Homo sapiens: one gene and its partners. The protein of the gene in region 6 purifies or fractionates together with the protein of the main gene of each other region. This does not show direct contact. Each region holds a gene or a part of one and is shown on either strand. Other genes may lie near its edges. The genes, in order: NBAS, KIRREL1, CRTAP, MYO19, RAB31 and SLC25A26.

Region 1 (3,500 bases), on a different chromosome or scaffold from region 6:
GCACACAACACCACACCTGGCTAATTTTTGTATTTTTAGTAGAGACGGGGGTTCACCATATTAAAAATAACTGGCCGTATAAGTAGATTTCAGATACAACTCTAGAAACCCAGTGAAGATAGTGATTATTATAGATCTGGTAGAGATGGAAGATTTTATATAGTGAAGATGTTTGGAGCAGGGATTTGGAAGGATTTAAATTAGGCCTTCTTGAATGAGAAGGGAGGAAGACATTCTTAACAGGACAGATGGTATGAACAAATTAAAAGACACTGAGCATGATTTATGAGGCCAGTGACTAAATCTGTTTTATTCACTGCTATATTTCCATGTCTAGTTCAGTGGCTGGTGTGCAGTAGGTGCCCAGTAAACATTTTATGGATAAATGAGCTCTGTACATCAACCAGTTTGCTGGCACTGATATTTGACAATAGTGAACACTGGGAAACATGATTGAAAAGATATATTGATTTGAGTTCAGGAGGATGTGGAAAGCTTCTGATGACTTAGGCATTTATCTACTGTTGTGGATTTCTGACTGTGGAAGCAGAGGAAGATGGTGTAGAGAGAATTGGAGTGGAAGGAAGGTAGGAAACCTTGCTTGGGGCAGGGGACTCCTACAGTGTGCTAGATGTTTTGTGTTGATGATTTAGACTGGTATGGAGGCCGCAGCTGTGGAAAAGGGAAAGTGAATTAAGAGACATTTGAAGAAAGAACTGATGTGAGGCAATATATAAAGGATCCTAGGGAATGAGTCAAATCTTAATTAAAATTTATAACCATAATAGCTCTTTCTAGGAAGAGGGCAAGTCAGGGATTTTTTTTTTATTTTTTATTTTTTAATTATTATTTTACTTTAAGTTCTAGGGTACATGTGCACAACGTGCAGGTTTGTTACATATGTATACATGTGCCATGGTGGTGTGCTGCACCCATTAACTCGTCATTTACATTAGGCATATCTCCTAATGCTATCCCTCCCCCCTCCCCCCACCCCCCAGCAGGCCCCGGTGTGTGATGTTCCCCACCCTGTGTCCATGTGTTCTCATTGTTCAATTCCCACCTATGAGTGAGAACATGCGGTGTTTGGTTTTCTGTCCTTGTGATAGTTTGCTCAGAATGATGGTTTCCAGCTTCATCTATGTCCCTATACAGGATGTGAACTCATCCTTTTTTATGGCTGCATAGTATTCCATGGTGTATATATGCCACATTTTCTTAATCCAGTCTATCATTGATGGACATTTGGGTTGGTTCCAAGTCTTTGCTATTGTGAGTAGTGTCGCTATAAACATACGTGTGCATATGTCTTTATAGTAGGAAGATTTGTAATCCTTTGGGTATATGCCCAGTAGTGGGATTGCTGGGTCAAATGGTATTTCTAGTTCTAGATCCTTGAGGAATCGCCACACTGTCTTCCACAATAACAAAGACACAACATACCAGAATCTCTGGGACACATTTAAAGCAGTGTGTAGAGGGAAATTTATAGCACTAAGTGCCCACAAGAGAAAGCAGGAGAGATCTAAAATTGACACCCTAACATCACAATTTACAGAACTAGAGAAATAAGAGCAAACACATTCAAAAGCTAGCAGAAGGCAAGAAATAACTAAGATCAGAGCAGAACTGAAGGAGATAGAGGCACAAAAAAACCTTCAAAAAATCAATGAATCCAGGAGCTGGTTTTTTGAAAAGATCAACAAAATTGATAGACCACTAGCAAGACTAATAAAGTCAGAGATTTTGAATGGAGTTGGAGGAAATAGTTGGGAGGGAGGAATAGGACTTTGATCTTTCCAAAAAACAGCATATCATGACTTTTTATGATCAAGTTATTCACACCCTGGGATATATCTCATGGTCAAATAAATACAGAAATTTGATGGGCTCATTTGTTTTGTTTAAAAGTTAAACATGCTTATTAATTATGACAGAATATATCTTGCCTTTCTGCCTTATTGTCTGCTCTATTATACAGCCACGGTGCAAACCAAAGGCATTTATAAAAGTTAGGAGGAAACATTTTATATTTCCAAAAATGAGTCCTGAGCTTTCTGTTTCTGCGTAGCTCATTAGAGGAAGAAAGCAAGCAGGTCAACTCACACTCCCCGCATCCAGTTGTAGTCACCATTAGGCAACTGGCTGCTTTTCTCTTGAGTTCCTCTAGCAGCTCCCTATGGCCAAGGTCCTAAATAGCTGTAATACATCAGGTATAGCTTTACAATTCTGAAGGCAGTTGTAATGTGTTGTAAGATGTCATGGATTCTGTAATTCCTCTGTTTCTTCCTTTATATGCAGAGTAAAATAAAGAAGCGATCCTGGGTTCTCCATGAGTGTTTGGAAAGAGTTCCTGAAAATGTGGATGCTGCAAAAGAACTGCTTCAGTATGGATTAAAAGGCACAGACCTGGAGGCTCTTTTAGCAATAGGGAAAGGAGCAGATGATGGCAGGTTGGTTACAGAAAGAATTGGATTCAAAGTAAAGGTGACTTTGTGAAAACTTTTGTACTGAGACATTGGACTGGGTAAACTTTTCTTTATTTAAGTTATTCTGTACTGAAGCAGTTGCTTTTGATCAATACTGTCTTACCTGAAGTCATTGCTCATCAGGCATTTGGAACTTTTTAAAAAATATAAATATGAGAGTATATCTGAGAAGTAAATAATTAAAATGAGACTGACACTACCATTTGAAGACCTTAAGTAGAAGTGATTCAAATAGCAAACTCTGTGGACATTTTCAGCATAGGCTGCTTTACATTGAGTGAATGTAACCCCACATCTCTTCCTAAATAGTTTTCATTTTCTTGATTTTTAGATTTCTATTTGTAATAATTACTGATGACTTTTTGCCCATCTGTGGATATAATGAATGATCACTTTGTTTACAATGGCAAAAGTTTTTTTCAAATACTTTCTTCTGTTTTTGTGGAAATCAATAATGAAATCAGTCAAAATAGGAGAAAGCTTTTCACAACACGAAGTTTTTAAAAATGATGAAAATATATTTGTTCTTTTATACTTGCAGATTTACATTACCTGGTGAAATAGACATTGACAGTATCTCCTATGAAGAGCTTTCACCACCTGATGAAGAGCCTGCCAAGAATAAAAAGGAAAAGGAGCTCAAGAAGAGACAAGAACTACTGAAATTAGTGAACTTTTCCAAGTAAATGAGTTGTTACTGTTCATTTGATAGTTTCTTTAAAATAACTAATCATTTCAGTGTGTTCCTTACTAGTAATAATTAGTCCAAATTATTTTAGCAACTTAGATCAAATGTACTTACTATTATCTTACCCTTGTGCTTTTCTGAACTGTTTCATGAGTTTTGGGCTCAACGGAATATTAATCATTTTCATTATAACTCCTAGAGAAATAATTCTGTGTAAATATAAGTGGCCTAACATAGTTATTCAAAACAGGTTGACACTGGAACAAAAGGAACTTTGCCGTTGTAGACGGAAGTTATTAACCTACTTAGATCGACTTGCAACA
Region 2 (3,500 bases), on a different chromosome or scaffold from region 6:
AACAAACAATAAACCAGTAGGGGCATGGAGTACCAGAAAATATTATAGGCCAGGAAAGAAAAGCAGACAAGGACTGGGAAAGATGTGTGAGCTGAGGACCTAGAGGAAGCCACCACAAGAGCAATGAAGACAGTGGTTGTAGATTAGGGGGTAGGGTGGTACCGCCTACCTAGAGGCGCACATGCAGGTGGAAGGATGCTTCCAGAGGCAGGAGTTTTGGTCTTCAGGGAAGTGTTAGCCACACCCTGCACTGACTTTGCTCTGCTTTCTCCCACAGTCCCCCCAGAGGACACCAGGATTGACGGAGGCCCTGTGATTCTACTGCAGGCAGGCACCCCCCACAACCTCACATGCCGGGCCTTCAATGCGAAGCCTGCTGCCACCATCATCTGGTTCCGGGACGGGACGCAGCAGGAGGGCGCTGTGGCCAGCACGGTGAGCTCCAGCCAGCTCCCCCAGCTCCTCCTGGGCCTAGCCCAGCTCACCTCTCCTTTCCCACAGGGGTTTCACCACAGACTCAGGAGCACACAGACATGAGAGGGGTCTTAGAGGTCATCTGGTTCAACCCTCTCATTCTACAGTTGGGAAAATTGAAACCCAGAGAAGAGAAATGAATTCCTAGGTTTACTGTGTCATTCAGTAGCTGAACAGAGACTAATAGTAATAATAAGTTGCCATGGATTAAGCACCTACTGTGTGCCAGACACCGTGCATGCTAAACACTTTATGGACAGTCTCTCTTAATCTTCATAGGAGTCCCATAAAGGAGGCATTATTTCCAACTCACAAAGGAGGAAACTTGCGCTCAGAGAGGTTGAGTGACTTGTCCAAGGTCACACAGCTGGCACAGAGCGGGGGTTTGTACCTGGGTCTGACTGTGCTTTCTCTCCACTGATCACTTCTACCTCTTTCCTTCAGCGTCTGGTTGTCAGATTATTCCAGTCATCACAACAAAGAGGCTGGGGAAGCAGAGATCCTTGTATACATTTTATAGATGAGGAAGCCATGAAAGATATCAAGTGACTTGCCCAGGATTACATAGCAAAGCGGACAGTACAGCTGGAATTCAAAGCCAGATTTCCTGGTTGGGGTTACCCTGCCAGTTGTGGGTAAACATATGTGTATTCAGCCCTTTGCTGGTGCTGCAGGAGCACTTCTCAGTGTGGAGACAGAGATGTTCCCATGCTCCTCAGCAAGCAATCCCAGGAATACCTGGCTTCTGGCTTCAGTTCTGCCCTTAACACACTGTGTGACCTTGGATAATTCGCTTCACTTTTTTCTGGCCTTAGTTTCTCATTTGACAAATGATAATTCAGCCTCAGTGGTACTTAACCTTTTCACAACCAAAAACTGTGATTTTTCTTCATCAGGGCTACATGTTTTTAGATATTTTGGCAACCAAACAAGTTGGTTTGTTAATATCCATTTGTCATCTACCCCCATTTTTCATATTCATTAAAGACAATGGAGCTTCAAAGCAGCACAAGGGAGCCAGTGTTATTGCACTGGCCCTCAACTGGGCCTGTCCAGCAAAGCTGCATGCATGGTGGTCAAACAACGGGGTCTTACTTTGATTAATAATATGGCTTCCCTCAGGCAGTTTGCAATATAGAAAACAGATCAAGGGTTCCTGTGACCATATTTAGGGACCCCTGGCTGTCACTGAGCAAGTGTAAGACTTCGAGCCTGTGAGTCCCTTCCCTGCCCTCAAGGAGTTTACAGTTTAGCAGAAGAAACCCAACCCTGAAACACGCACACATGGTGCCTACAAGCAAGGTTGGATGTGTCTAGAGCTGTGAGCAGGACACACTGACTATAAGGGCATAAATTCAGTCTGGGAGAGAGTTCTGAGGGCTGGGCTGGCTGAAGAAGGCTTTCCAGAAGAGAAGGGATTTGCGCTGGACTCACAAAGAGTGAACTCTAATATAAACTGTGGCCTTAATAATAATATATTAGTTTCGGTCCATCAGTTGTAACAGACTTATCACTCTAATGCAAGGTGTTAAGGTGTTAGTAATGGGGGAAAGTGTAAGGTCGGGGAGGAGGGTATATGGAAACTCCCTGTACTTTCTGCTCAATTTTTCTGTAAACTTAAAACTGCTCCAAAAGATAGTCTGTGATGTGGGCATGATGGCACACTCCTGTAGTCGCTGCTACTCAGAAGGCTCAGGCAGGAGGATTGCTTGAGTCCAAGCTTTGGAGGCCAGCCTGGGCAACATAGCAAGACCCTAAAAATATATAACTTTTAATTAAAAGATAATTAGTAGTCTATTGATTAAACACACACACACACACACACACACACAAGGGAAGAGGTTGTGGGAGTGAAGGGGATTGAGCTTTAAGTTAAAGTACCCCTCCAGCCCAAGCCCATCTCTGAGTGAGGTCAACTTAAGAGCAGAGGAGGGGGCTTTTAGCTTAACCATATCTCCCACCCTTGTCATGTTCCAGGAATTGCTGAAGGATGGGAAGAGGGAGACCACCGTGAGCCAACTGCTTATTAACCCCACGGACCTGGACATAGGGCGTGTCTTCACTTGCCGAAGCATGAACGAAGCCATCCCTAGTGGCAAGGAGACTTCCATCGAGCTGGATGTGCACCGTGAGTGGGCTGGGGGGAGCAGTCTGGAGCAGGGGGGTGGAAGAAGGGGTGTGTTTGAGAAGCACACTCTTAGTTTGAGAAACACAAACTAAGAGTCCCCCTATGGTCCCCAGGACAAACGCTTGCCTTCTTCACATCTTTCATTCCCTGGATTGAACCATGGGGACTAAGGGCTGGTAGAGCATTGGCTGTGGAGTCAGGCAGTCCCCAGGTCTAAACCAGCCTGTTATTAGTCAATGGTTTACACTCTCTGGGCCTCGGTTTCCAGTTCTGTATACTGTATATTGCAAAAGATAAAATACTGGCCTACAGTCCCTTATTCAAACTAAAAGTGGTTCGATGGTGCAGCCTGAACCAAGGCTCTTCATAGTCTTTTATTTAATTTAGTCTTAAGTTTCACTGCAGATGTATTCATATGTGTGACTATGGGATGTGGCCCAGATGCTGCTGGGGATCTTACACAGTAAACGCTCTATGCACAACCATTGCCTTTCTAAATGTGAAAAATTCTAAATTCTGAAATGCATCTAGTCCTAAGGGTTTCAAATAAGGGATTGTGGACCTGGACCTGCTTCCTGGGGTTGTGAGCATTAAATGAGATATAGCAGAAGAGCATCTAGCATGGAGTATTCTTACCTGGTAGGTGTGTAATAAATTGTCTCTCCCCAGGGAACCATGGGGGTGTGGGCAGCAACTGGGGATGCCCACACCCCATCCTTTTTAGTGAGCCAAGCAAGCTCACACTGACGCCTAGTGGCCACAGTGGGTCATTAGTCCATTGAGTTATTTGTCCCTTTGGTGCCTTCATTGGTGGTCACCCTAGCAGGCCCCCTAGAGGCTCCATGTGCAAAAGGTGAGGAAGACAGTGTGTTAACTGGAGCCGATACACTGCAACCTC
Region 3 (3,500 bases), about 33 Mb from region 6:
ACATAAAAATCCAAACATACTTCATATGACTTGGTTTCCAGGTCTTTAATGTAGTCCTCGGCACCAGGCAGGCTCTTATAATATGCCATGTTCCTCTTCATCATTTCGTCATCAGGATGCTTCAGTAGAAAGGTGTGAGCAGCGGCGATGGCTTTGGGGAGATTATTTGCCTAAAAGGACAAAGAACATAAAAGCTACTCCATGGATGCTAAGTGGTAATTTTTGTAAAACAAGAATATCTGCTTAGTCCTTCAGAAACTTTGTGTTGCTATAACTTTTCCAGCTAAAGGTTCCATGACTTCCAGGGCCCCTCAAGACCAAGTCCAGGCACTGTGAGACAAGTGCTGATTTCCTGAAAGCGACTGTCTGGATGGCCTCGGTCTGCCTTTCCCAATCTACTCTGCACTGGCTACATGCCCCAGGAGGCTGGCCTGTGTGGACTATAACAACAGACTCCCTCGCTCTCTGGCTTCCAAAGAGGTTCACCCATGAGGAGCCCCAGTAGATGACTGAGGAAGGGAAGAGAGTAAGGTCATGTTATTTCATTTCCTGGTTCCCTCCCTGCACAGTCCTCTTGGGCTGCTATGTCCCTTAATTGAAGATCACAGTTCTTCTCAAGGTGACCCTCTCCATAGAGTCTCCCTCCTTCCCGGTTTCAATCACTGCTCTCTCCCCTGCCCCTTTTGGCCTAGGGTTGGTCATATCCCACTGCTATCACCCCTGTGGCAGAACACTATCTCTTGTGGATTCCCCATGCACTGCACACACCTTTGTAAATAACCACCTTCTTAAACTTTCCTCCAATTACCCAATATGACTGCACCATATCTTTTCCACTGGCACCTTGACAAATATATTGTTTTCCCAAATCCCCCACAGACCTTCTGCTAACATTCTCAATGACTCCACCACCTCCTCACTTATTCATCCATTCATGCAGCAATAAACGTCATATTACAAGAGCACCATTTCTAGGTTGTGGGTCTATAACAATAAGCAAAACAGGAAAAAAAAATCCCCACCTGCATGGACCATATATTCTGTTAAGTTCTCCCTGTCTCCTAGTGGCCTCAATTAAGAGCCTCTCTGTTGGGCTAGTTCTGGGTTCTGTCTTCCCGCATTTTACGCCACCCTACAATCTCAGTGGTACGTCTATCTCCCCCATCAGACTATGATCCTCGGGGGACCCAGCTGTGTGTCATTCATTATCTGGATTCCTGGTGCCTCACACAGTCCTCAGGACAAGGCAGGACACAATAAGTATCTGTGATTTGAACATAATGACATTATGACCATAAAATATAATAAAATTAATTCACATTTTCCTCTCTTTTCCCCTCTGTCTTCTCTCCATTGAAGGGGCCAATGATTCTGAGTTTCACTGTCTCAGGGGAGGTAGATATCTGGTCAGAACCAGCAAATTATTCACTTGAAAAAAGCCTGCACTCACAAAAGAGCCTGACAGGTTTGAGGGGAGAAAGAAATTGGAGAGGAGCTGCAGGAAGAAGCTGACTGGCCTGGGAGAAGAAGAGGGAGAAAGGGAATCTCCCAGGCTAGGAAAAAAGTTTCCCTTGGGATCTGTGAGAGCAGCAGGGCTGCGGGCCCCGGAGCTTCAGGGCTGGCACTTATCGGCAGTGTTCAAGACGGCAGAAGTCCTCAGGAAGAACAGGTATGTTATGGCAGGACCTCAGGAGGGCAGGCAAATAAGGATGCAGAGGCCTCCCTGTGAGGACTCATGACCACCAACCAGAGGGCCCCCATGCTGATGGACTCTTGGCACAACCTAGTAGGGAGAAGGGCAGGCACCTGTGCATGTGCACAGAGACTCAGCCAATCCAGAGGGACGCTCCAAGGCGGGAATTAGGGAATTCGGTTTAGACAGAGAAAATAAAGGAATATTTGGTATACCCTAGACTTCTAAGAGTCATAGGATGGCATATATCGGTACCGAATTGCCCCAGAATTGGAACCAAGTCATTTTGAGACAATGGCAGTGGCCACATCAGAGAAGTGGTGGGTGGTGATGAGGGCAGACTCCCAGATGTCAATGCTGATGTTTTGGGAATGCCAATTAGTGGCTTGTGGCAGGGCTGCCTTTAAAACAGCCCTACAGAAAGCTTCACACTCCTGGCCAGAAAAAGGCTAGTCTTCAGCTGGAAGGAAGGGAGAGGGTATGAATGCTGCCTTTTAAAGCATTTGCCAGTGAAATTAGAGTCACTAATTCTCAGAACAGCACTTAGAAAGAGGGGCACAGAGGCCGGGAGCAGTGGCTCATGCCTGTAATCCCAGCACTTTAGGAGGTCGAGGTGGGTGGATCACGAGGTCAGGAGTCCAAGATCAGCCTGGCCAAGATGATGAAACCCCATCTCTACTAAAAAGACAAAAATTAGCCAGGCACAGTGGCAGGTGCTTGTAATCCCAGCTACTCGGGAGGCTGAGGCAGGAGAATCACTTGAACCCGGGGGGCGGAGGTTGCAGTGAGCCAGGATCGCACCACTGCACTCCAGTCTGGGTGACACAGTGAGATTCCGTCTCAAAAAAGAAAGAAAGAAAGAAAGAAAGGAATAGAAAGAGGGGCACAGAGTAGGATTTTTAAGGCTTCTAACTTAGGATGTTTTACAAAACGGAATCTCTTCCTGAAGAGAAAAGAGTGATTTTATTTACTTCAACTCAGGCTCTGCAGCTGGAACATGGAGACACATCTTGGCTACCAAACCTCTGACAGACCCCAGGCAGATTTTGGAGAAGGTGGTAGGGATGGAGGGAACCACCTTGCCTTGGGTTCCTGAGATACAGCCACCAGCATGAGCCACCCTAAATCAGCCATGACACAGAGGCAGGCCCTGTGGTTCCGGGGAGTTAGAGGCCACAGCCAGGCAAGGCCTGGGGTTAACAGTGCCTGTGAGTCAGTGTTCTCTGTCCAGGTTAGAGCTCAACAGTCATTAAGGATTTGATGAAGTGCTCCGGCCTACTTTTTGCTTGGCCTATGAGAAAAATGAGTTTTTCGTGGAAGATGGTAATTGTGGAGAGAACCCAAAGAAAGCTAATGACATGGACCTAGAGTAGGCTGGTGACGAGAAACCTATGATGCACCTGAGGCTGCACACCAGTAGCACAGCCCTTTTCTACAAGAGCACACATCCAAACCTCCTCGCCTCCCTCTGGCAGTCGGAACCCACCATTGCTATTCCAGTGATCAATTGAGGCATTTCTCCTTAATCACTGAAACAGAGAACTGCAACTCAGAACAGCAGAGTAACATTTATCCATGTCCTGCCACAGCGCACTATCTACCTTCATATCGACCTCCAGCCTTCAGGTGCCAGGTAGAATGTATGTGCCTGCCACCCATCTTTTCCTCTCTATCCATAAACAGAGTTTAAACACGTAAACATCACTTTTTTTTGACACAAGAGTCTTGTTCTGTCACCCAGGCTGGAGTGCAGTGGTAAGATCACAGCTCACTGCAGCCTTGACTTTCTGGGCTCAAGTGATCCTCC
Region 4 (3,500 bases), on a different chromosome or scaffold from region 6:
TGGCTAATTTTTTGAATTTTTTTTAGTAGAGACGGGGTTTCACCGTGTTAACCAGGATGGTCTCGATCTCCTCACTTTGTGTCCTGCCCGCCTTGGCCTCCCAGAGTGCTGGGATTATAGGCATGAGCCACTGTGCCTGGCCTCACCTTCACGTTATCTCTTCCAGGTCAATGGCCACAATCCGGGGTCTGATGGCCAAGCCAGGGAGTACCTCAGAGAAGACCTGCAGGAGTTCCTGGGTGGGGAGGTCCTGCTGTACAAACTGGATGACCTCACCAGGGTGAATCCTGTGACACTAGAGACAGGTATGGGCCTCCCATTCCTCAGGAGTATCATCTCCAGGAGGTTGGAGGTGTAATGAGAGTAGTCAGCACAGCTTCTCCAGGTCAGACGGAGGTCGGCAGGACTCCTGATCTGGAGCCAGGTGGGCTGCTCCAGACCTCCGCCTGAGGGAGCATGACAGCTGCACCTGGGCTCCCCAGGGCATGCTTTGCTTCAGATTTGGAGCTCATCTTAATTAGATCTTGTATCTTTTCTTCAGGGAGCTGCTGGGATTTAATGATTCTTGGCTAATTGCAGAAAGAGGGCTGTTACTTAAGTAGATGTGTGTCTGTGTGTGTGGTTTGACTATATTTGAGCCCGAGTTTGCTAAAGGCATCTCTGCCTCAGTCCTGAGGTGCCTGCAGGCCCGGTACATGGCAGACACATTCTACACCAATGCTGGCTGCACCCTGGTAGCCTTGAACCCCTTCAAGCCTGTTCCTCAGCTCTACTCGCCCGAGCTAATGAGAGAGTACCATGCTGCGCCTCAGCCCCAGGTAAGGCTCTGCCGCTGCCTGTGGCCTCAGGGCTCCTCTACCTCCCGCTAAACCTCTTTGCAGTTACCCCTGTCCTTATTCATCTATTCACCAGCAATGTGGTCATTCAGAGTCTGCTAGTGCCACGGCCTGCCCAATAGGAGCTGGCAGAATTTTGAACCATGAAGAACTGACTACAGGACAGAAGGTGCAAAGTGGGGAATAAATAAATATTTGTTTAACTGAGTTTGGAACCTAAAATAAGAGACATAAGAGAAAGGATTTTTTTTTCTTGTTTGCGGTTTTATTAACAGGAAAGGATTTATAAAGGTATTATATATTTGTTTATTTAACAAACTACCTTTTTATTTTTTATTATTATTTATTTATTTATTTATTTATTTTGAGATGGAGTTTCAGTCTTATTGCCCAGACTGGAGTGCAATGGCATGATCTGGGCTCAGCGCAACCTCCACCTCCTGAGTTCAAGCAATTCTCCTGCTTCAGCCTCCTGAGTAGCTGGGATTACAGGCATATGCCACCACACCTGGCTAATTTTGTATTTTTAGTAGGCATATTGGTCAGGCTGGTCTCAAACTCCTGACATCAGGTGATCTACCCACCTTGGCCTCCCAAAGCGCTGGAATTACAGGTGTGAGCCACTGTACCCGGCCCTATTTATTTTGAGACTGAGTCTCTCCCTGTCACCCAGGCTGGAGCGCAGTAGTGCGATCTTGACTCACCGCAACCTCCGCCTCCAGGGTTCAAGTGATTCTTGTGCCTCAGCCTCCCGAGTAGCTGGGACTACAGGTGCCCACCACCATGCCCGGCTAATTTTTGTATTTTTAGTAGAGATGGGGTTTCACCATGTTGGCCAGGCTGGTCTCGAACTCCTGACCTCAAGTGATCCACCTGCCGTAGCCTCCCAAAGTGCTGAGATTATAGGCATGAGCCACTGAGTCCAGCAAAACTACCTTTTTAGGAAAGAATGAAATTATACACGATAAGGATTGCCCTGGAAAATTCAGCATATGTTTATCTCTGCTGAGGAAAGTAACTTATTCTTTTACTGAGAAAAGGATAAGTTATTTGGGGTGGGGTGGTGGAGGTACAGACAGATAATGAGCTTGTTGGTGTAAAAGTGCATGATGCATTCAGGGAGAGGTGAGAGAAAACTTGCTGGCAGGAGGGAGGTCTTGGGGGCAAGAGGGAGTAGATGAGAGCAGGAAGACGAGAAAGCCAGGGTTGTTTGTGAAGAGTCTGAAGCACCATAGCAGGCAGAGAGAATCTGCAGAGCATCTTCATCCAGGTAGAGGTGGGACTGGGAACAGAACCCACTAGACGAATAATTACTGTGGGAGTTGGGTTCAAGAAGGTGAGGCAGGAGGCAGAGACAACAGTTGGAGGCTTTGTATCCCTCCAGGTGATAGGTGGCTGGGGCAAGGGCAGGTGTAGAGAGGAGTGGCTCTGACGCCATATGGAACAGTTGCCTTCTCCCTCAGCAAGCTGTGGGTAAGTGATCACTGCTGGCTGGGTTAGCTAGGCATTGTGGAGATGGCGTGGCCCTCCAGAAGTTCATGCGTGATGAGGTATCCAGTTGGAATCCAGGGGCAGTCTGTCCTGAGAGCCCTGTCTGCTGTCTGCCCTGCCTCCGGAAAAGTAAAAGCCAAGTCGTAGTCCCCTATGTTTCCTCAGCATCCAGCTTGATTGATGCCTAGTACATTGAAGACAGTTAATAGTTGTTGAAGAAAAGGGGAACAGTGGCTTTGGAATTTAAATCACATGGATATACTTACTTGCTGAGTGGCCTTGCAAGGTTATTTAACTCCTCTGAACCTCACATTCCTTATCTATAAAATAGGGTTATATTTCCAATTAGTGGACAGGCTTCTTAGTAGTTTATACGAACTTTGCAAATTGCAAATTATAGTAATATGAAGTAATAGGCAGAAGGATAAGACAATTAAAGCAAGATAAGATGGGGGTATAAAGTGTTAATGTCATAAACTGGTCAAGGCTAGCCCTGCTTCTAGGCTGAGAGAAAATGAATAGGTAAAGCCAACATAGGGGTTCTAAAGTTGGGCCTAACAATGTGACATCCAGAAAATTTTTCTGGAGGAAGCATCCCACCACTGCTATTGGCAGCCTCCCCATCTCAGTCATCATTGGCTCAGTCATCATTGAAAAACAGGCATTCCCTCACATGACCTTTCACTCCTTGATGTTCCAGAAACTGAAGCCCCATGTGTTCACTGTGGGTGAACAGACCTACAGGAATGTCAAGAGCCTGATTGAACCAGTCAACCAGTCTATTGTTGTCAGTGGAGAGAGTGGTGCTGGAAAGGTAGGAAGACGTCTTTCCCATCCTGTCAACTCACGACTGGCTGGGTGGACAGGGAGGCAGGGGTCATTCCTTGGCCTTCCTTGTGGAGTTGTTTGCTTCCTAATCATTCCCACATAGGCTGGCTGAAGCTGGGGTTGGTGCACAATGGTGGGCTAGCACTGAGCCGGAAGTCAAGAGACAGGATACCAGTCCAGGCTCTACTGCAAGCTCTGCCATCACCCTGGGTGAAATAGGAATGAAGTTTCCTTTCTAAGCCTTATTTTCTCATCGAAAGTGTCTCCCAGCTCTTGACACTACTGGAAACAAAAGTCAGCTGCTGGGGATTCCAGCATAGTGGTTAAGAACACATCAGAAAAGTA
Region 5 (3,500 bases), on a different chromosome or scaffold from region 6:
CAGCCTAGGTTTATTCTCTTGATTCGAGAGACCCTGTGGATCAGTCAGTGCTAAGTCCAAAAGTCCTTTAAAAAATATATGTATATTTTTGAGATAGGGTCTCACTCTGTCACCCAGGCTGGAGTGCAATGGTGCCATCCTGGCTCACTGCAGCCTCAGCCTCCCAAGCTCAGGTGATCCTCCCACCTCAGCCTGCCAAGTAGCTGGGACCACAGGTGTGTACCACCCAGCCCAGCTAATACTTTTTATTATTTTTGTAGAGATGGGGTCTCCCTATGTTGCCCAGGCTCTTTCAACATTTTAACAGGAACCTTGGGCTCATTTGTGCTTTGCGTAGGGAGGTCTGTCTTTTCTGGGTGAAGTTTTGTGTGTGGCTGGCATTCAGCTTCCTGTTTTTTAGCCATGAGACACCTCCCTGAAGTCTTGCTATGACCAAGACCCTGACAGCCACACCTTCTTTCTGCCTGTTAGAATCACTTTCTGTCGGGTTTCCCTTATAAGGTGATAGAGAACATAGACTTCATAACAAAATATCACTCTCACTGGGAAGGCTGAGGGGTTGGTCTTTTTGTGCCTGGTACTGTGCTCAGTGGGGACTTGGGGACATGCTTCGCATTTAAGGTATAGGTTGTTTTAGGCATGGGCAGTAGGCGCTTTCAGCACAGGCTCCCTGCTGGTCACTCTTTGCTGTAGTTTCCTGCTCCATCCATGGGGTCGGAGGTCTTACCTCCTGACGTTAGAGTCATTTGCAGCAGGTGGGAGTGAAAGTGGGCCGGGTGCCAGGTCTTCTTTACCTGAACCTCTCCTGTCTTCCTGGCACATTAGGAATGTCCAAGCTTATTTCTATTGGTGAATGCTCCCACATGGGATGGATAATGGCCTGTGGAACATTCTCTGAATGCTTTGTGTTCTTGGAAAACCAAGGACTGAAGAGCGTTGGGTTTGTTTAGGTTACCTGTTATAAATTCTTGGCTCACATTTCATGTGTGGACTTTCTTGGGTTTATTCCACATGGGGACAGCCCAGCAAGCCTTTGTGAACGCCCTTTCCTGGCCTGAGCCGAGTCACCTGTGGAAGTCAGCCGTGCAGGAGGGTGTGCTTGATAGGGGGAAGCACCCTGGGCAGGACCCCATGAGTTTCCTTCTTACCAGGAAAGTGTCATTCGTCCCACTTTGTGATCTGAACTGGTATTATGAAACATGAAGCTTAAAGGCAACAAAGTATGTTAACAACAACAACAAAAAATACTTAACAAAAACAACACTGAGGCAGCAGCTGCTTCAACCCCAAAGGTGGAAAAGTTTCCCAGTATGCATTTTTAACACACATCACCATGTGGCAAGAAGCAGGAGGAAGGGAGAGAGTGGGGAGGAGGAGAAAGAGAAGGAGGGGACCTTTGTTTTGTTATCTCCTTGGGGTATTTGTGTGCGTGCACTTAAAAACTGCGTGCACTTAAAAACTGCTTCCTGATGGAATCCCAAAGAGATTTATATTTGGACTTTGGTTGTCTTGACAACAATTTAGAAATTCCTACCACTTCCTCAATAGCTGAGTGATCAGTTAAAAGAGCCGATGGCTTCCCTGCTTCTGGTAAGGAGCTTGTTGAAGCATCTTGTGATCTTTGTTGGAATGTATATGGTGGCTCATTAAAGAGCAGTCAAATACCTGGGATTTGGTGAGACATCTGGGTAATGGGTACTTCACCTATGTCCAGGGCCTTCGCATGGAAGGCCTCTTGTCTCCCCAGGGACACTAGGACGCAAGAGTAGAACAGATTTATACTCACAGTAAGGCAGATCATCAGAACTGTGCAACCTCACATGAGTTGCTATGAGCACTGTATGACAGAGTATCCAATAAGGTGATAAGAATTTGTTAGTGTTATTGTGGAAGGAAGTAATGCATAGGATAGTGGGTTGGGCTAGGTAATGATCACATTTGCTTTCCAAGTCTGAGATTCTAGTAACTTACTATTTTTTCTCCCGAGACTGGCATTTCTTGGGGAAGGGGGATGGTGGGGAGGGTTGAGTGGCTAGCCACAGCATTTATTTCTTGGCACAACTGATTCCTCTACTAAATTGAACCATTTGTGGAAAGTATGTTCAGCATTGGTGACTCTGGGTACGTTCTATGTTACACGAGAATAAATATGATATAGTGGGCTATCTTCCCAGCAGTGCCTGGCATATGGTAACACTGTGTCTTATGCACCCATCCCAGGCTGATGGAATCCATCAGGGTCCCTTTGTTCCTCCTTTGTTCAGGGTCAGCATTGCTGCTTTCATCCTCCCTCAGCTTTCAGAGCTCAGTGCATCTCTGGAGTGTGTATCAGAATCATTTGAGGAGCATTTTCAAGCTTCTCATGGTCCCTTCCCCCATCCCTTATGTCTTAATTTGAGCTGCTGTCACAAAAATACCATAGGCTGGAGGGCTTAAACAATAGACATTTAATTCTCACAGTTCTGGAGGTTGGGAAGTCTAAGACCAAGGCGCTGGCAGATCTAGTGCCTGGTGAGGGCTCGATTTCTGGTTTGCAGACAGCTGCCTTCTTGCTGTAACTTCACATGACTGAGAGAGTGCTCGGTCTCTTTCTCTTCTTATAAGGACGCCAACCCCATTCATGAAGGCTCTACCCTCACAACCTAAGCACCTCCCAAAGGCCCACCTCCTAATATCCTCACATTGGAGGTTAGGCTTCAAAATGGGAATTTTGTTGGAGGGACACAAATATTAATTCCATAGTACCTTGTCAATAGTGTTCAGGCATGTGGCCTCTACTTTTGCCCTGGCCCAATGACACTGTTTTAGTGAGTGTGATATATCCTTTAGGTCTGCTCTAAGGCCACAGCCATGAGAAAATAGGAAACTTTACATTTTAAGATGCTAGGACAGTGGTCCCCAACCTTTTTGGCACTAGGGATCAGTTTTGTGGAAGACGATTTTTCCACAGATGGGAGCAGGAGGCGGGGGATGGTTTTAGGATGAAACTGTTCCACGTCAGATCATCAGGCATTAGTTAGATTCTCATGAGGAGCATGCAACTTAGATCCCTCACATGCGCAGTTCACAACAGGGTTTGCACTCCTGTGAGAATCTAATGTCACCATTGATTTGACAGGAGGCAGAGCTCAGCTGGTAATGCTCACTCACTGTTCACCTCCTGCTGTGCAACCTGGTTCCTAACAAGCCATGGGTCAGTACCGCCCCAGGGGTTGGGGACCTCTGTGCTAGAACGCAAAAGCTTTTGAGTTCACTAATTGGAAAAGACCTTTAAAATTTAATTAAGCCTGGTAGATAACGCTTATTTGGTGTTTGCATGCCTGTGCAGATTTTACACTTTCATTTATCTTAGTTTTTATCACTTATGACATGTGTTTGAAAATGGAATAGGTATTCATTCATTCAGCCATTCACCATTTGTGGAGTGTTTCTTTTATGCTGGGAGCTGTGGGTGGCTGCATGTAGACAGGATGGCAGTGATTGTTGCCTTCCCAAAGACA
Region 6 (3,500 bases):
CCAGCATAGCTCTAGAATCAGACCCCTGGACGGGAGTGTTTGATTAGCCAGACCTAACTCACCTGATTGTGGTCCTCCTGCCAGGGTAGGAGGGGAGAGACTGACTCCCTTTGTTTTTCCTAACTGGGAAGCCCCCCACACGTGAGAGTCGGAAGCTGGGCTGCCAGAGAAGGCAGGTGTGCCCTGCAACATTATGTACCGCCTTCCAGTGTTGCTTGCTCTTTAGAAATTTATGTTCCCAGGGTTCCATTATTGGCTTTGATCTTCCTTTTTGGTTCTCTCTTTGGGTGTTACTATCTGGTTTTAGCGATCACCTGTATGCTGATGACTTCCATATCTGTATTCACATCCAAGAAAAAGTTACTTTCTAGTTTTATAGCCATATATTCATTTCTTGACTGGACATAGCCCCTTACCTGTCCCCCAGACTTCAACTCAGCCTTGCCTAGTCTGAACTTACCTCCCTTCTTCCCTGGACTGCTAATCTCATGTTTTGGGACCACCATATGCCTATTATCCAAACCAGAAACAGAAGCATCTTACTGTCTCCCTACTTCTTCACTCCTTAACCTCCTGTCAGTGACCAGGTCCGGTGCATTTTACTCCTTTTTCCTCAGATTTGACCTTCTCTGAGCCATATTCATTTCCAGATGTCTTTTATAGAACTGCTATAGCAGTCTCGTAACCCATCTTTTGCCTTCTGGCTCGTGGTCCCCCTTTGCTTCTTGCCTTCCTCCCCACCCTCCAGCTGTCCTGTGCATTGCAGCCAGAGTGATCTCCCTAAGCACACGTCATTCCTCTGCTTCAGCTTTTTCAAGTGTTCCCACTGACTATGGAATGAAGTTTCAGCCCCTTAGCATGGTATACAGGGCCTTGTCTGTCCAGTCTTACTTGTCATTACTCCTGACCTTGCACTTGCTGCTTTGGTAATACGGAATGGTGTGGGCAGCTGCCAGCTTTGGAATACTGTGTTGGTGGGACTGCCGCTGATTCCCCTGAACACCCTGCTTTTGTATTTATGTACTTCCTTTTATTGTTCATTCTTCCCACTGTGCCCTTTCCACCTTTCTTGCCAGCTCATTCCGGCTCATCCAGAAGGTTCTATAATGGTGTAATCTTGGGCAGTTTCTCTGAATCTGGGGGTTGGACTAAATACCCCTCCTCCACATTTCCCATAATCTTTGTCCATGCGCCCCACCCCCCTTTTGGCCATGTTTTATTGAAATTATTTATATGTATTTGCGGGTTCTTTGAAGCCAGGGCATCATCTTAGTCTTCTTTATCATGGAGTGGCTTGTGTGGTATCTGGCTCCATATGTATTTCTTGAACTGAATTAGATAAGTTTGAAGGGAGACTGGGTGGAAAAATATGTTGGCCCAAGTTACAGACAGCTTTATACATAAGAAGCATTCAAATGTTCAGTGAATGAAGAAATGGAAATCAGATGATATCGTTTTGTAAATCTTGTCAGTTTTGGTAGAAAAATAACTTCAGGTTATGAATCCTTTGTTAACATAACCATACCCTTTGTTGTAATGCATCGGTATGAAGCATTGTTACTTCTTAGCTTTAGAGGCAATATGCCCGTGTTAGCTGACTTCATGACATCTAAAATCACATCACATGGTGTCTTTGTCCCACTTGTCATGGGGTGCTCGGGCTTATATCTGTTCTGTGCCCAGTCTGCTCTTGCCAAGGCTAATTCCCTTGGAGTAGGAGTTGGCAAGCTGTCACCTGTTTTTGTAAATATAGTTTTATTGGAACATAGGCAAACTTTTAATTTATATATTATTATGTATAGATGCTTTTGTGCTAAAACAGCATAGTTGAACAATTGTGACAGAGACCATGTGGCTTGCAAACTGTAAAATATTTCCTATTTGGTCTTTTACATTATAAATTTGCTGTAGAGCCTTGCCTTAGAACCATTTAATTTTGGACAGGCAAAGCCTTATGTGATATCCAAATTGAGTACTGATCTCTGATTAGGAATCAGGAGAATACGGATCATAAAGGGCAAACCTCTTTGAGTTGTGTACTCTATTTGGTGGAATGGTTTTCTTACATTTCTTGCAGGCTGGTCTTGAACTCCAGGGCTCAAGCGACCTTCCTGTCTCGGCTTCCCGAGTGCCATAACTTTCATGTTCAAGGTTACATATGTGAAATCTAAGTTGCAGAAAAAGTTTGTATATTTGCAGACTGCTAGGTGCATAGCGGCTTAAATACAGGACTTTCATTAAAATGTTTAAAATATTTTTACACATCTCCCTCCCTGTACCTTGCCACCCCTTCTCCAACCTTGCCTTCTTTGCTTTTGTGGGCAGAGTTCCTTTGGGTTTGACTAATTCTTTATTGTTTCTATTTCTGAAAATAAGTAAATTACCTTAATATAGGGTAAGGTAAAATCCTGGCAGTGTGGATTTGAGATGACATATACCCGGCCTCAGCATGTCACCAAGGGTGATATTAGAATCATATATTGGCTGGTAGCTGTGAGGATGACTCAAGTCTGCTGGAATGCTGGAGGAGAGTGTATGAGAGTGCTGGGAGTCCCTTTTCAGTTGCTGCATGATCAAGAGGTCTAGGGGCTGGAGTTGGTGAAGGGTGGAAGGCTGGGTACCAGCTGATGGTCAGCTTGCCTCTACGGATGTATGCATTACTTCCAGTAAAGCAGAGGTTCCTCTGGTTCATTTTTCATCACACATGTTTGAAATGTCATGTGCCAGTTGCAGTTCTGGGCGTTGGGGATTCGAAATGAGTAAATGTGCTTCTTGCCGTTGGGAGGCTTGTAGACAGATGTTCTTGGAACATCTGGCGGGAGGTGGCAGGATCTATATAGGACAAGCCAGGAAAGGTTCTGGGCTGACAAAACAATGTACATGCTTTAAGGGTCCAAGAGTTTTAGGTTAAAAAAAAAAAAAGAAACTTTTTGACATCTTGCAGTAAGCCTACATATTATACCTTTTTACTACAATTTTTGCTTACCAAAAAATTTCAATTTTTATAGCAGTTATTTACTTTTTAGGATATAATCAAATTTGTCTTTTAGGTTGCCTGCCTGATTCGAGTTCCATCTGAAGTGGTTAAGCAGAGGGCACAGGTATCTGCTTCTACAAGAACATTTCAGATTTTCTCTAACATCTTATATGAAGAGGTGAGATGGGTTTTTTAAGCTCTTCTTTTCTTTATTAAGATTTTATAGTAGCTAATACGAACACTGTGGATTTCATCCTAAGAGCCTTAGAGAAAACTTTAGAGCTAAATTTAATGTCCAGTTATAGTAAATTTTTGCTAAGATTATCTTTGCCTTTTATTGGTTTTTGAATATTTTCATTTACATGTTTTTCAAATTTCTGAGCATAACATTGAGTGTCCTGAATTGTAATCTTCCTGCAGTTCTTCTGGAATCAGATGTGAAACAAATTTTAAATATGTAAAATGAAGAAAGATATTATATTAAAACATCAGTATAGTATTTTAGGTCCATGGAAGAGATTTA

The links.
Region 1: the proteins of SLC25A26 (region 6) and NBAS purify together in Homo sapiens (affinity purification with mass spectrometry; one large-scale study listed by BioGRID and IntAct). This does not show direct contact.
Region 2: the proteins of SLC25A26 (region 6) and KIRREL1 purify together in Homo sapiens (affinity purification with mass spectrometry; one large-scale study listed by BioGRID and IntAct). This does not show direct contact.
Region 3: the proteins of SLC25A26 (region 6) and CRTAP purify together in Homo sapiens (affinity purification with mass spectrometry; one large-scale study listed by BioGRID and IntAct). This does not show direct contact.
Region 4: the proteins of SLC25A26 (region 6) and MYO19 purify together in Homo sapiens (affinity purification with mass spectrometry; one large-scale study listed by BioGRID and IntAct). This does not show direct contact.
Region 5: the proteins of SLC25A26 (region 6) and RAB31 purify together in Homo sapiens (affinity purification with mass spectrometry; one large-scale study listed by BioGRID and IntAct). This does not show direct contact.

Annotation. Positions count from the first base shown.
Region 1 is NC_000002.12:15,467,335-15,470,834, reverse strand, and holds part of NBAS (NBAS subunit of NRZ tethering complex), read left to right. Parts: intron 1-2,301; coding exon 2,302-2,453; intron 2,454-3,030; coding exon 3,031-3,171; intron 3,172-3,427; coding exon 3,428-3,500. UniProt on the Homo sapiens protein: Involved in Golgi-to-endoplasmic reticulum (ER) retrograde transport; the function is proposed to depend on its association in the NRZ complex which is believed to play a role in SNARE assembly at the ER. Required for normal embryonic development.
Region 2 is NC_000001.11:158,084,145-158,087,644, forward strand, and holds part of KIRREL1 (kin of IRRE-like protein 1 isoform 1 precursor), read left to right. Parts: intron 1-277; coding exon 278-435; intron 436-2,451; coding exon 2,452-2,602; intron 2,603-3,500. UniProt on the Homo sapiens protein: Required for proper function of the glomerular filtration barrier. It is involved in the maintenance of a stable podocyte architecture with interdigitating foot processes connected by specialized cell-cell junctions, known as the slit diaphragm.
Region 3 is NC_000003.12:33,117,014-33,120,513, reverse strand, and holds part of CRTAP (cartilage-associated protein isoform 1 precursor), read right to left. Parts: intron 171-3,500; coding exon 21-170; intron 1-20. UniProt on the Homo sapiens protein: Necessary for efficient 3-hydroxylation of fibrillar collagen prolyl residues.
Region 4 is NC_000017.11:36,524,869-36,528,368, reverse strand, and holds part of MYO19 (unconventional myosin-XIX), read left to right. Parts: intron 1-166; coding exon 167-305; intron 306-669; coding exon 670-818; intron 819-912; coding exon of another isoform or gene 913-1,005; intron 1,006-3,027; coding exon 3,028-3,141; intron 3,142-3,500. UniProt on the Homo sapiens protein: Actin-based motor molecule with ATPase activity that localizes to the mitochondrion outer membrane. Motor protein that moves towards the plus-end of actin filaments. Required for mitochondrial inheritance during mitosis.
Region 5 is NC_000018.10:9,711,301-9,714,800, forward strand, and holds part of RAB31 (ras-related protein Rab-31), read left to right. Parts: intron 1-3,500. UniProt on the Homo sapiens protein: The small GTPases Rab are key regulators of intracellular membrane trafficking, from the formation of transport vesicles to their fusion with membranes.
Region 6 is NC_000003.12:66,259,001-66,262,500, forward strand, and holds part of SLC25A26 (mitochondrial S-adenosylmethionine carrier protein), read left to right. Parts: intron 1-3,050; coding exon 3,051-3,155; intron 3,156-3,500. UniProt on the Homo sapiens protein: Mitochondrial S-adenosyl-L-methionine/S-adenosyl-L-homocysteine antiporter.